Homo sapiens: one gene and its partners. The protein of the gene in region 1 purifies or fractionates together with the protein of each later gene. This does not show direct contact. Each region holds a gene or a part of one and is shown in the gene's direction. Other genes may lie near its edges.

Region 1 (2,306 bases):
GGCACCCAAGCCCCAGTCTCGCTGCACCTCTACCCGCTCAGCAGGTGAGGCCCCTTCAGAAAATCAGAGTCCCTCAAAAGGCCCTGAAGAGGCCAGCAGTGAGGTTCAGGACACAAATGAAGTGCATGTGCCTGGTGATCAGGATGAACCACAGACATTGGGCAAAAAGGGCAGCAAAAACAATATCTCTGTTTATATGACCCTAAATCAAAAGAAATCTGACTCTTCCAGTGCTTCAGTGTGTAGCATTGATAGCACAGATGATTTGAAATCTTCCAACTCTGAGTGTAGTTCTTCTGAAAGCTTTGATTTTCCTCCAGGCAGTATGCATGCACCTTCCACCTCCTCCACTTCCTCCTCTTCAAAGGAAGAGAAAAAGCTCAGTAATTCCTTGAAAATGAAAGTCTTTTCCAAAAACGTCTCTAAATGCGTCACACCAGATGGCAGGACCATATGTGTAGGGGACATTGTTTGGGCCAAGATATATGGCTTCCCTTGGTGGCCAGCCCGTATTCTTACTATAACTGTGAGCCGGAAAGATAACGGCCTTTTAGTCCGACAGGAGGCCCGTATTTCATGGTTTGGGTCTCCAACAACATCTTTCCTTGCTCTTTCACAACTCTCCCCCTTTTTAGAAAACTTCCAGTCACGCTTTAATAAGAAGAGAAAGGGCCTGTATCGCAAGGCTATCACAGAGGCAGCTAAGGCTGCCAAGCAGCTGACCCCCGAAGTGCGGGCTTTGTTGACACAGTTTGAAACGTGAACATGGGCAGTAAGGTAGGCAAGACCATTGGAAGTCACCACAGATTTTCTAGTCTAGTTAGGAATAATTTCTACAAAATAGCGTGGCCAGATTGGAGAGAGAAGTTGCACTCAGTTGGCTGGCTTTTTAATACTTACCTTATAGCCATTTTTAGACTGAGAGCTTAAACTGAACATATAATCAAATTTTGTGTTAAGGAAGTGAGATTTTAGCAGTATTTTTCAGTTTTGAAGTTCGAAACCATCCCAAGGCATAGGAGCCATAGCCTCAACTGAAATTGAATTTTTGTAGGGACTGTTAATTGCCATTTGTACCTAATACTGTATATATACATATATATACGTGTGTGTGTGTGTATATATATATATCCGTGTATGTATATATACACACATATATATGTATATATACACATATATATATATGAAATACAGCCTGTCACTGTGTGACACAGATTGCATATTTGGGATTGCAATAAGGGCTTGGTGAGCTGGGGGAATAGTGGATATTTAATGACTACTTGTTTTTTAAATAATGAACACTTAGCCTTTCTATGCGCATAATGGTGTAAAAGTTAGATGGTTAGGTGTTTGACAAACAGATGGTTGCAATTCAGTTACAGACTGGGGAAATAGCCCAGTGTTTGGGATTAAAACTGTCAAGACTGGATAGGTGTTAGTCATCACTGTCTTTCGTCCAGTGGGGATTTAATAAATACTTTCAAGCTTCTGGTTTGGGAGTTTAGATAGGTTTGATTTTGGATTTGTAAATAGTGATTGCTAAATTTGGTCAGATTTCTCCTGACTGGCTGTTCCTAAATTCTTAGGATATGTCCCAGTAAAATTATACTTTGTGAATTAATTGTCATATGTGTAATTGTTGCATTTTGGATGTACCTAATTTGATAATTAAAACAAAATAATTTCCGTTTAAGGTATCTGTTTGCAGGTCAGAAAATGAGAAAATGTAATTGTGTAATGCTCTGAAATGTAAAAAAAAAAAAAAAAACCAAAAAAAAGCTGTAAATAAAATCAACTAAATCCAAATTATTTGTGTGTGTTTCTCAAAAAGCTTTGAAAAATTTCAAGATGGTAGAAAATTATTCTTTGTAAGAGTGTTTAGAAGAGATGAAAAATCAAACTTTTATTTTGCTATTTGCCCTATCAGGGAATATATTATCTGAGATAAGAAAACTTCAAATAATGAGAGATGAATCAGTATATTCTCAAAATAAGATTTTGTAGTATAGAGGTTTGATAATGCTTTTAGATTTGATATCCCCTTCCTGCCAATTTCTCATAAATGTGTGAATTTTAATTTTTAGTCTTAATATTTCATCACATGCTTCCTTTTTTTACATTCGGGTAATTACAACCGGTCTCTTCTGTTTGGTTTTCTGCCTCATGTATCACTGCTTTTGGGGCTAGTAACTTAGCTTACTATTTTTCTACATGGTCCATCTGTCCCTAAGATTTGATTTCTTATTTTCCATTTTTAGCTTTGTATTAGTAGTGAGAAATATATCTGATTGGCTGTGGAGGCAAGT
Region 2 (3,500 bases), on another chromosome or scaffold:
CATTACACATTTTATTAAGGAAACAGAGAAAGTGTGGTAGACTGGAAAGAATAGTGGCCTAGGGAGACAAGGAGCCCTGATTCCTATACCCCTCTGGAACTATTAGCTGCATACTCTCAAGCTAGTTTCTTCCCCTCTCTGAATCTCATTTCTTCATCCATAGGAGAATGTGTTCTCAAATTCCAAACAAGTAACACGCAAGTTAATTTTAGATACAACTCACTGGAAAATTGAAGACACAGATGCATAGATTATATCTTTTTTAAGATTATAGGACATTAGCTGGGCATGGTGACATGTGCGTGTGGTCCTAGCTACTTGGGAGGCTGAGGCAAGGGAATCACTTGAGCCCAGGAATTCGAGGCTGCAGTGAGCAGGCCTCTGCACTCCATCCTGGGCAAGAGAGAGAGACCCTGTCTCAAAAAAACAAACAAACAAAAAAACATTATAGGACAACTCTTTTGTGAAAAAGTACGTAAGTTTTGTTAAGCAGCTCTCATTGTTATATGATCATACTTATTATATGGTACAGAGAAAAAGAAAAGACACTATTATTGTAGACAGATGTTGTAAAGATGAAAGTTTGTGATGATGAGATCAATATGGTGATGGGCCTGTTCCTATTTCCTGTCTGTAATGTGTCCACTGCAGGAAGGAGCAAAGGAGTATGCCATGCTCCACAACCCCCGCTCCAAGTGCTCTGGTCGTCGCCGGAGAAGGCACCACATAGTCAGTGCTTCCTGCTCCAATGCCTCAGCCTCTGCTGTGGCTGAGACTAAAGAAGGAGACAGTGACAGGGACACAGGCAATGACTGGGCCTCCAGTTCTTCAGGTACGATGAACAGAAAATGAAGACTTTTTCTTTCCATGCAAGGACTCTGGTAAACCCAGGATCACTGCCTGACACTTAACTTTACTACCTCTTAAAAATTATAAATTCTTTCTACAAGTTTTGTAAACAGTAAAGATGGGGAATATTTTCTTTTTTTTTTTTTTTTTTTTTGAAACAGTCTCTCGCTTTTTTGCCCAGGCTGGAGTGCAGTGGTGCTATCTTGGCTCACTGCAACCTCCACCTCCCAGGTTCAAGCGATTCTCCTGCCTCAGCCTCCCAAGTAGCTGGGATTACAGGTGCCTGCCACCACGCCCGGCTAATTTTTATATTTTTAGTAGAGACGGGGTTTCGCCATGTTGGCCAGGCTGGTCTTGAACTTCTGACCTCAGGTGATCCGCCTGCCTCGGCGTCCTAAAGTGCTGGGATTACAGGCGTGAGCCACCCTGCCTGGCTAATTTTTGTATTTTTAGTAGAGACAGGGTTTCGCCATGTTGCCCAGGCTGGTCTTGAACTCCTGAGCTCAAGCAATCCACCCACCTCGGCCTCCCAAAATGCAGGGATTACAGGCGTGAGCCACCATGCCTGGCCTAAAGATAGGGAATATTTTCATTCCTAACTGTTCTACCTTTTAAAGTAGAATGAAGTACTTCTGAGTTTGTGACAAACTACTGATGACAACTGCATTCTACCTTCTTCTGATTCTGTTATTTCTTCCCTTCTCAGAGGCTAACTCTCGCTGTCAGACTCCCACAAAACAGAAGGCTAGTCCAGCCCCACCTCAACTCTGCGTAGTGGAAGCACCCTCGGAGCCTGTGGAATGGACTGGGGCTGAAGAATCTCTTTTTCGAGTCTTCCATGGCACCTACTTCAACAACTTCTGTTCAATAGCCAGGCTTCTGGGGACCAAGACGTGCAAGCAGGTACCATCTGGAAGCAGCAGAACAAATGGGCCCCTCCTTTCACGCATTGCTCTGTCCAGCCCTTTGCCATCTTACCAGGCTGTGTGTCTGGGTCTGGAGAGAAGTTGTCTTAAGTTCAGTCCCTGATGAGCCTGTGCTTCTGTGAGTTTCCCAAACATGGCCCTTCTGCAAGTGCCAGGCCTAATGATGTTTGGGGACCCGCCTCCTCCTTGCTGAATGCTCATTTCTGTCTGGACTCTATTTAATGCTTCTGGGTCCTACACTCTTTCGCTTCTTTTTTTTGGCTCTGGCCTCCTTTCTAAATGTGTACCCCTTTCCCAGAAGGGACTCCCAGGTCTTTCTGTGGCTCTTGTTAATGAGCACACTGCTGCTGCTGCTGCAGCTGCTGCAGCTGCTGCTCCCTCCACCACTCCGCCAGCCTCTTCAGTCATTTTATTCTCCACATTTTCTATCACTAGATTATCTTTATTTTGTCTTTGAGACAGGGTTTCACTGTGTCGCCCAGGCTGGAGTGCAGTGGCATGATCATAGCTCACTGCAACCTCCGCCTCCTGGGCTCAAGCAGTCCTCTCCCCTCAGCCAAGCAAGTAGCAAGGGACTACAGGTGCAGGCCAGTATGCCCAGCTAATTTTTTTTTTTTTTTGAGACAGAATCTCGCTCTGTTGCCCAGGCTGGAGTGGTGCAGTGGCATAATCTTGGTTCACTGCAACCTCCGCCTCCCAAGTTCAAGTGATTCTTCTGCCTCATCCTCCCAAGCAACTGGGATTACAGGTGCCCACCACCACACCCAGCTAATTTTTTTTGTTTTGTTTTTTTGAGATGGAGTCTCGGTCTGTTGCCCAGGCTGGAGTGCAGTGGCATGATCTCAGCTCACTGCAGCCTCCGCCTCCCAGGTTCAAGTGATTCTTCTGCCACAGCCTCCCAAGTAGCTGGGATTACAGGTGTGCACCACCACGCCCGGCTAATTTTGTATTTGTAATAGAGACGGGGTTTCACCATGTTGGCCAGGCTGGTCTCAAACTCCTGACCTCAGGTGATCCACCCGCCTCGGCCTCCCAAAGTGCTGGGATTACAGGCATGAGCCAATGTGCCTGGCCATTTTTGTATTTTTTTTTAGTAGAGATGGGGTTTCACCATGTTGGCCAGGCTGGTCTCAAACTCCTGACCTCAAGTGATTGGCCCAGGAAAAGACAGGAAAAGACCACAGTGAGAAGACAGACTGAAGAACAGGGACAAGGAGGCAGCTGTCAGGGCCAGCATGTCCAACAGGAAAGGAACCCCAATGCTTTGGCTTCCTACCTTCTGGAGGAGACTCTGTGGCCTCTTCTTCATGCTTCCTGTACTGAGAACAATTAATAGAACCATGGACTGGGCAAGGTGGCTCACACCTAGAATTCCAGTGCTTTGGGAAGCCATGGTGGGAGGATCGCTTGAAGCCAGGATTTCAGGACCAGTGTGGGCAACAAAGTGAGACCCCATTTCTACAAAAAAAAAAAAAAAAAAAAAGCCACGTACCTGTAGTCCTAGTACTCAGGAGGCTGAGGTGGGAAGATGGCTTGAGCCCAGGAGTTCTATACTACATTGAGCTATGATGGCACCACTGCACTCCAGCCTGGCCAAGAGTATGAGACCCTCTCTCTTAAAAAAAAAAAAAAAAAACAAACAAAAACAGAACCATGAGCTGAAGTGCCCTTTGCTTTCATTTTGGAGCTCATACCTATTTCCCTGATCACAGGTTCTCAACGTAA
Region 3 (3,500 bases), on another chromosome or scaffold:
CTTAGCCTCAACCTCTCGGGCTCAGGTGATCCTCCCACCTTAGCCTCCCAAGTAGCTGGGACTACAGGCACGTGCCACTCGCCTGGCTAATTTTTGTATTTTTTGTAGAGATGGGGTTTTGCCGTGTTGCCCAGGCTGGTCTTGAACTCCTGGGCTTAAGCCTGCATTGGCCTCCCAAAGTGCTAGGATTGCAGGCATGAGCCACTGTGCCTAGCCTCGTATACTTTTTAAAAACATTTTTAAATGTTTCCAAAATTGGAGTGTAAATTAATACGTATATTCAGTTTCGGCATTCTCTATGGTACCATCCCTCTACCCCCATCTTTTCCCCTCCACCTTAAAAACCAGTGATTGTGTTAGTGATGTATATTACAATCAATGATATCATGGAATTAAGGGCATGTAGTTATGACATCAGAAGTACTAGACTGTATTTATGCTGGTACTAAGTGGTTTGAAGAATAATTTGAAGTCAGAATTTAGGATGCCAAAGCATTATGCTCATAAATCATCGTTCCATTTTCTGAAATGTAGTACTTTGGAAATATAATTCAAAGTGTGATATTCTTACAGCTAAATTGACCTTGACTATTCAACGTCCATATATAGTTTATATGCTACAAGATCTTGATATTCTTGAAGACTGGACAACAATTAGGAAGGTATGATTAATGAGCAGTGGAACACAAGTATGTTTTTATAGTCTACTTTTTAAGATTCTATGTTTTTTTTGTTAGTACATCAAAATATTATTGTAAATATGCTTTGCTTTTGCAACATTTTTCTAAGGCAATTTAATACTATTACAGATAGCAGTGAACTACAAGGATATTTTAAGAGTTAGAGACATGTCAGCAGTTTGATTGTATTTTTTCTATAATAATGTAACTAATAATTTATGGAAAAGTCCAAAAAACATTTATTTAGTCTGCCCAAAAATAATAACATCACCATCTGTGCCTAGTCCTTTGGCTGGTCCTGGCTTATAGAAAACACTTGATAAATATTTGTTGAACAAAAGAACATTTGAACCCTTATGTGTCTTGCATCCTATCATTAAACATTCAAGAATCATAGGCTTTTCTTTTCTTGCCTGAAAGTGGAGGCTTGTTTTCCATATTACATTTTTTCATTTTTGTAAATTTCTTAGTTGAGAATTAGAGATTATTTCAGGTATTGAAAACACCTCTAGGAGAAATTGTTATCCCTCATATTCTTTATGGTCTTAGACATTAAAAATTTGTTAGAGCAGCTAATGGTTATACTTTACTGTCTTTGTTATGGAGTTAATCGGTAATATTGTATATATTAAATAGATACCAAAATATATTTTCAGTCTGAACTCAGACTTCTTTCTTCCTCTTTTTTTTTTTTTTTAATTAAGGCAATGGCTACATTGGGGCCACACAGAGTGAAAACGGAACGTAAGTCATTTAGTCTGAGTTGGGAAATATTCTCTTTGGAGACTTGTTGAATCAGGGTTGTTATCTACGTACTAAAGAACTCTTGAATCAGTGGTTTTATTTCATCAGTGAACACCGTGCCTGAAATTATGAGGAATTCTTCTGGAGTCATTGCTTCACGTAAAAGTTTCAAAATTTCTGAATGTGGTATAATTATTTCAGTGTTCAGCTACATTCTTATTGCTAATAATGGATCAGTAACTCAAAAAAGTATTTATGCAGTGTTTTTTATGGGCTCTGTCATTCTATAGGGGAGGTATTTGGAATTTGTGGATTGGCTTCAGAGATTCTGTGAATCCTCTGAAATTATGTGCAAAATTCTGCATGTGCATTTTCTGAGGAGAGAGATCAGAATGCTGATATGCCTTAGTAAAATTCATATCAAGTTACACTTCCTTGATTTTTTTTTTGGAAGTCTAAAATCACTGCCAAAATGTGATGGTGTTTAGGATAAGTTTCTCTGTTTCTGCCTTCTTTCACTATAGGTGAGATTTCCTAATCCTTCTAAGGACAATGAAGCTAGACTAAAAAGAAAAACATATTTGAAATACTTAGGAAAGGAATTTCTAGTCACATTTAAACAGCTTAAGTAATCGATAAGAGACCAATTTCTGTTTAGGCTGGGCATGGTGGCTCATGCCTAGCATGATCCCAGCAATTTGGGACGCTAAGGCAGGAGGATCACTTGAGCCCAGGAGTTTGAGATCTGCCTGGGCAAGATGGCAAGACCCCATCTCTACAAAAAAATACAAAAATTAGCCAGGCTTGGCGGTGTGTACTTGTAGTCTCAGCCTCTTGGGAGGCTGAGGTGGGAGGATCACCTGAGCCCTGGAGGTCGAGGCTCCAGTGAGCCATGATCACACCACTACACTGGGCAACAGAGCAGGATTCCATCTCTAAGAAAAAAAAAATTGCATTTTATTTTTAACCCCATGATTCCTTTAAACTTTTTATTTTGTGAGGAAATTGCAGCAGTATTTGCCCTGGGGAATTAACTGCCAGAGCAGCTGCCTAGACCTGTAGAGCAGTGGTTCTTAACATTTTTGGGTAATAGATTCCTTTTGAGAATCTCATTATCATAGTTGAGTGTGTCTCCCTCCCACTCTTATCTTCAGCATTGTATCCTATTAGTTTTACTCATAGCACTTCACTCAATTTGTACTTTTTAATTTTGTCTATCTCCTGACTGGATTGTAAGCTCCACAAAGGCTAGAACCATATCTCTTTTGGTCACAGTTTTTTCCCCAGCATACTTCCTTGTGTATAGGAAGTGTTCAGACAACATTTGTTGAATGAATGAATGAATGAATGAATGAATATACCCGATGGTATTTTAGGCCCTGAGAATACAATGGTAAAAGAAATATGGATCTCCTGGAGCCTCTTTAGGGGAGGTGGAATCATATATATGTAGATAAACAGTTAAGAAGATAGTTACAGATTATAATAATTACTCTAAAAGAACTGTGCAGTTGATATAACAATTAGCTGAGGAGTGGGTAGAGTAGTTAGGGAAGACCTCTCAGGAGCTGACATTTGAATGACTTCATGGTATGCTTTTGACACTGTGTTTCCATAAAAAAGATTTTTTTTTCCTGTATGAGTTATCTGACTAATGCCAGATGATTTCTGGAATTTAAAAATAGAAGTTGTACTTAGGACATTTCCTTTTTAGAATTAAAAGCCTGGGGAATGCTTGGAACATGTATTAAACTCTGCTTCTTTCGGTATATCAGATGCCCGCAGGGGAAAAAATAAAAAGTATAATTTTCAATTGAAATATGGCAATTGATATTTTAAATACTACTTAAAATTCACACTAGTAATTGATAACATACCTGCTTCCCCTTCTGGTACTTAATTAGTCAATTGATGATTTATTGTTCATTGTTTAGCTTTGTTTAGTAGTTATATTAAAAACTTAGTGATTATGTAAAAGAATGTAAGGAATAAATCTTTTTATTACATTTTAGGTTTGTTATTTAAGAAATATTTTTAGGCCTTTTTTACATATGCATGGATTGATGTTAATTGTTA
Region 4 (3,500 bases), on another chromosome or scaffold:
TTATAAACAGGATATAAACTCTTATGGCCTGTCCAGTTATTATTTACATATAGTGATTTTTTTGAATCATGGTTTTTGTATATCAACTTTGTATTTACCCATTTCATTAAATTTTCTTACTGTTTTTAATTGTTACAGTTGATTTTCTTGAGTTTTCACCTACAAGGAAATGGTAGTTTTATCTTCTTTCTAAATTTTATTCTTCTTACCTGATTGGCCAATTCCTTCAAAACAGTGTTATGAAATAGTGGTGGTAGTTGAAATCTTTGTCATACTAGGTTAGTGGTGGTAGTTGAAATATTTGTCGTTCTCATCGTCTTTTAATATTACGATACTGGTTTTTGGGTTGGAGTGGGGAGAAATGTTTTATTAGGTTAAAAAAGTATCCATCTAAGCTGGGCGCTGTGGCTCACACCAGTAATCCCAGCACTTTGGGAGGCTGAGGCAGGCAGATTACCTGAGGTCAGGAGTTTGAGACCAGCCTGGCCAACATGGTGAAACCCCATCTCTACTAAAAATACAAAAATTAGCTGGGTGTGGTGGCGTGCGCCTGTAGTCCCAGCTACTTGGGAGGTTGAGACAAGAGAGTAGCTTGAACCCGGGAGGCAGAGGTTGCAGTGAGCCGAGATTGTGCCACTGCATTCCAGCCTGGGCAACAGAGCAAGACTGTCAAAAAAAAAAAAGGCAATAATCAAAAATAATCGGAGTGTTTAAAACAGCAACAAAATTCCATGTTGAATATCAGTGAATCAGTGAACCTTTTTAAGTACTTAAACATAATTTACCTTTTGCAAATTTATTCAGGGTTATAAATGTTCATTTTTACTTAATGGAGCCATAAATTAATCTCTTTTTTTTATTGTATAGAAATTTACAGCAACAATGTCAACACCAGATAAGAAAGCTTCACAGAAGATTGGTTTTCGATTACGTAATCTGCTCAAGCTTCCTAAAGCACATAAATGGTGTATATACGAGTGGTTCTATTCAAATATAGATAAGTATGTATCATGGCTTATATTATGAATATTACTTGAATCAGAAATTTAAGTTTTTCAAGTGTTTTAAGCTACAACATTTTCTATAGGTCTACTTTGATCTTATTTTTCTCTAAATTCATTTTTCTGTTCCACATTCCAGTTGGATCTATTCTATTTGTCATAGTTTTCTTCCCTGTTATCCTTTTTGGGGAAGAAAACTGTACATTTTTGTGAAGAATTGATTACGGTATAATTTCTGTGTTAGAATTCTTAAAGACTATGGAGTAGAGATACCTTAAAACACCATTATTTGCAGTGAATGAGATTCATTTTATAATTGAGATGTTAAGTGCTGGTATAATCATAGAGAAACCATTACTAATGGTAAAAATGGCTTAAGATTTTTAAGAGGGTAGTCTTTCTAGTTTGGATGTGGTACTTAAGCACGCTAGGTATACACATATGCTTAAGTATGACGTAGTATGAGATTTGGCTGAAATACAATTATTCAACAATGGAATTTACTGAGGAAAAGTTCTTATTTATAATCCTTCCTCATATGCCAGTCATTGCTGCTTGCTCTGCTGGATATTTATATTTTCTTCCCTTCTCTGTTTTCTATACCAATTGCCTACTCTGGAGCTTGTGAATCTCATGAATGTTCATATTTGAGCCCAAGGCATTTATGTATCATTGCCAACACTGGTTCCTGGTTTCCCAGACTCATGAATAGAATTGTTTTATTTTTGTCCATAGGCTTAAGAGAGTTTTCAGGGTGTCTCAGTGTAATCTGAGTTCTTCTGGGATCCCCCAAGCTAATCTAACCCTCTGGAGTCCTCCAGTGTCCCAAGACTGGTTTAATTCCAAAGAGGACTCCTTGGTGATGGTATTCCTTTGGGACAAAGATACTTTGTAGCTAACTTGGTTTATCTTCACCTGATACAAGGCCAGGGCCACGATAGCCTCCCAAAGGATATACCTGTATAAGAGATTGAACAAAAATCAGTGTCTCTTGGAATCACAACACAAATAATATTTCCTGAGCAACTTTTACACGACATTAGATGTTTCACAAATGCCAAGGATTTAGTTTTAGCACTTTGAATTTGTGCCAGTTTATATATATATATGGGGTAGAAGTGAAAGTTTAGCATTTTGTGATTTTATGTGTTTTAAGAAAGTAACACATTGTATGTAACCATTAAAATACTATATCTGTTTTACAGACCACTTTTTGAAGGTGATAATGACTTCTGTGTATGTCTAAAGGAATCTTTTCCTAATTTGAAAACAAGAAAGTTAACAAGAGTAGAATGGGGAAAAATTCGGCGGCTTATGGGAAAACCACGGAGGTAAAAATAATGTTTTTGTTTTTGTTTAAAATAAAATCAAGCCAGTAGCAGTGCATGTACTTATAATCCCAGTTACTTGGAAGGCTAAGATGGGGTATTTGCTTAAGGCCAGGGGTTCAGGGCTGTAGTATGCTGTGATTACACCTGTGAATAGTCACTGCACTCTAGCCTGGGCAACACAGTGAGACCATTCCTCTAAAAAAGAATTAAAAAATAAAATCAATAAATAATAGTTGTTAGTATCATTAGTACATTGATTTTTTTAATCTTTAAAATGACTAGTACCAAAACATAACTTTTCAGAATAATTGATTATATGTTAAATATATCCTGTTAACCAACTTTAATGTAGGTGCTGTTTATACGTATGCATCTTATAATTAAATGCACAATTTCATTTTTGTTAGGATCACAGGTTTTCAACGTAATTTTTTAGTTTTACATTATCTATGTCCCTCTGTGTTCCAAAAAATATTTAAGAATGTCCTAAAAAGTATTTAAGGATGCTGTAAAGTTCTGTGTACATTTTTGTTATCTTTTGTGAAATCCTTTATAATCTCAGGAGCCTTCCCAGAAGTGCCTATTTTATTTTATATAAAAGTAGAAAACAAATTAATCTATCTAATATGTTACTTCCTGAGAATTGCTCTTCATGTGAAATGATTTTTTCTTTTCCAGTGTTATCCTGGTAACACATTGGAAAACCTTATATTACTTTTGAGTGAAAATTGGAAATATGTTAGAAGAATAATTAGATCATTAGTTCTCACATTATGTCTATCTGCCTGGTAAAAAGTATGTGCAAGACTTTTTCATTTTAAATGGTGGGAAAGTTCAAGGAAGGTCTGTAAATATAAAGTGATTTGGACAAATAGAAATGGAATTTAGATTTAATGATTTCTTTAGATGGTGATGAAATACAGAGAGAACTTTTAATTAAACTGTCATCAAGATGACCTTGATGATGATGTTTTTAATATTTCTTATAATAACAAAATTAAAATTTGATATGTTATTTAGTGTGTTTCATACTCATAATTTATGGCCTTTGGTAATTACAGTAGCCATTTGGTGACTTTTTGCTATCATTTTGCGTGTTTGAGCAAATTGAGTTACACTGTTTCTAATTATTGTCCATCAGAGTGGGATATTGGTCACTATTTACTGT

Evidence for each region. The genes of interacting proteins can lie anywhere in the genome.
Region 2: the proteins of PWWP2A (region 1) and EZH1 purify together in Homo sapiens (affinity purification with mass spectrometry, with the first as the bait; one large-scale study listed by BioGRID). This does not show direct contact.
Region 3: the proteins of PWWP2A (region 1) and BRMS1L purify together in Homo sapiens (affinity purification with mass spectrometry, with the first as the bait; one large-scale study listed by BioGRID). This does not show direct contact.
Region 4: the proteins of PWWP2A (region 1) and LIN9 purify together in Homo sapiens (affinity purification with mass spectrometry, with the first as the bait; one large-scale study listed by BioGRID). This does not show direct contact.

What each region holds. Positions count from the first base shown.
Region 1 is NC_000005.10:160,090,839-160,093,144, reverse strand, and holds the end of PWWP2A (PWWP domain-containing protein 2A), read left to right. Parts: coding exon 1-763; 3' UTR 764-1,806; downstream 1,807-2,306. UniProt on the Homo sapiens protein: Chromatin-binding protein that acts as an adapter between distinct nucleosome components (H3K36me3 or H2A.Z) and chromatin-modifying complexes, contributing to the regulation of the levels of histone acetylation at actively transcribed genes.
Region 2 is NC_000017.11:42,710,541-42,714,040, reverse strand, and holds part of EZH1 (histone-lysine N-methyltransferase EZH1), read left to right. Parts: intron 1-651; coding exon 652-832; intron 833-1,555; coding exon 1,556-1,752; intron 1,753-3,500.
Region 3 is NC_000014.9:35,864,338-35,867,837, forward strand, and holds part of BRMS1L (breast cancer metastasis-suppressor 1-like protein), read left to right. Parts: intron 1-597; coding exon 598-662; intron 663-1,384; coding exon 1,385-1,424; intron 1,425-3,500. UniProt on the Homo sapiens protein: Involved in the histone deacetylase (HDAC1)-dependent transcriptional repression activity. When overexpressed in lung cancer cell line that lacks p53/TP53 expression, inhibits cell growth.
Region 4 is NC_000001.11:226,285,165-226,288,664, reverse strand, and holds part of LIN9 (protein lin-9 homolog), read left to right. Parts: intron 1-867; coding exon 868-1,001; intron 1,002-2,206; coding exon 2,207-2,332; intron 2,333-3,500. UniProt on the Homo sapiens protein: Acts as a tumor suppressor. Inhibits DNA synthesis. Its ability to inhibit oncogenic transformation is mediated through its association with RB1. Plays a role in the expression of genes required for the G1/S transition.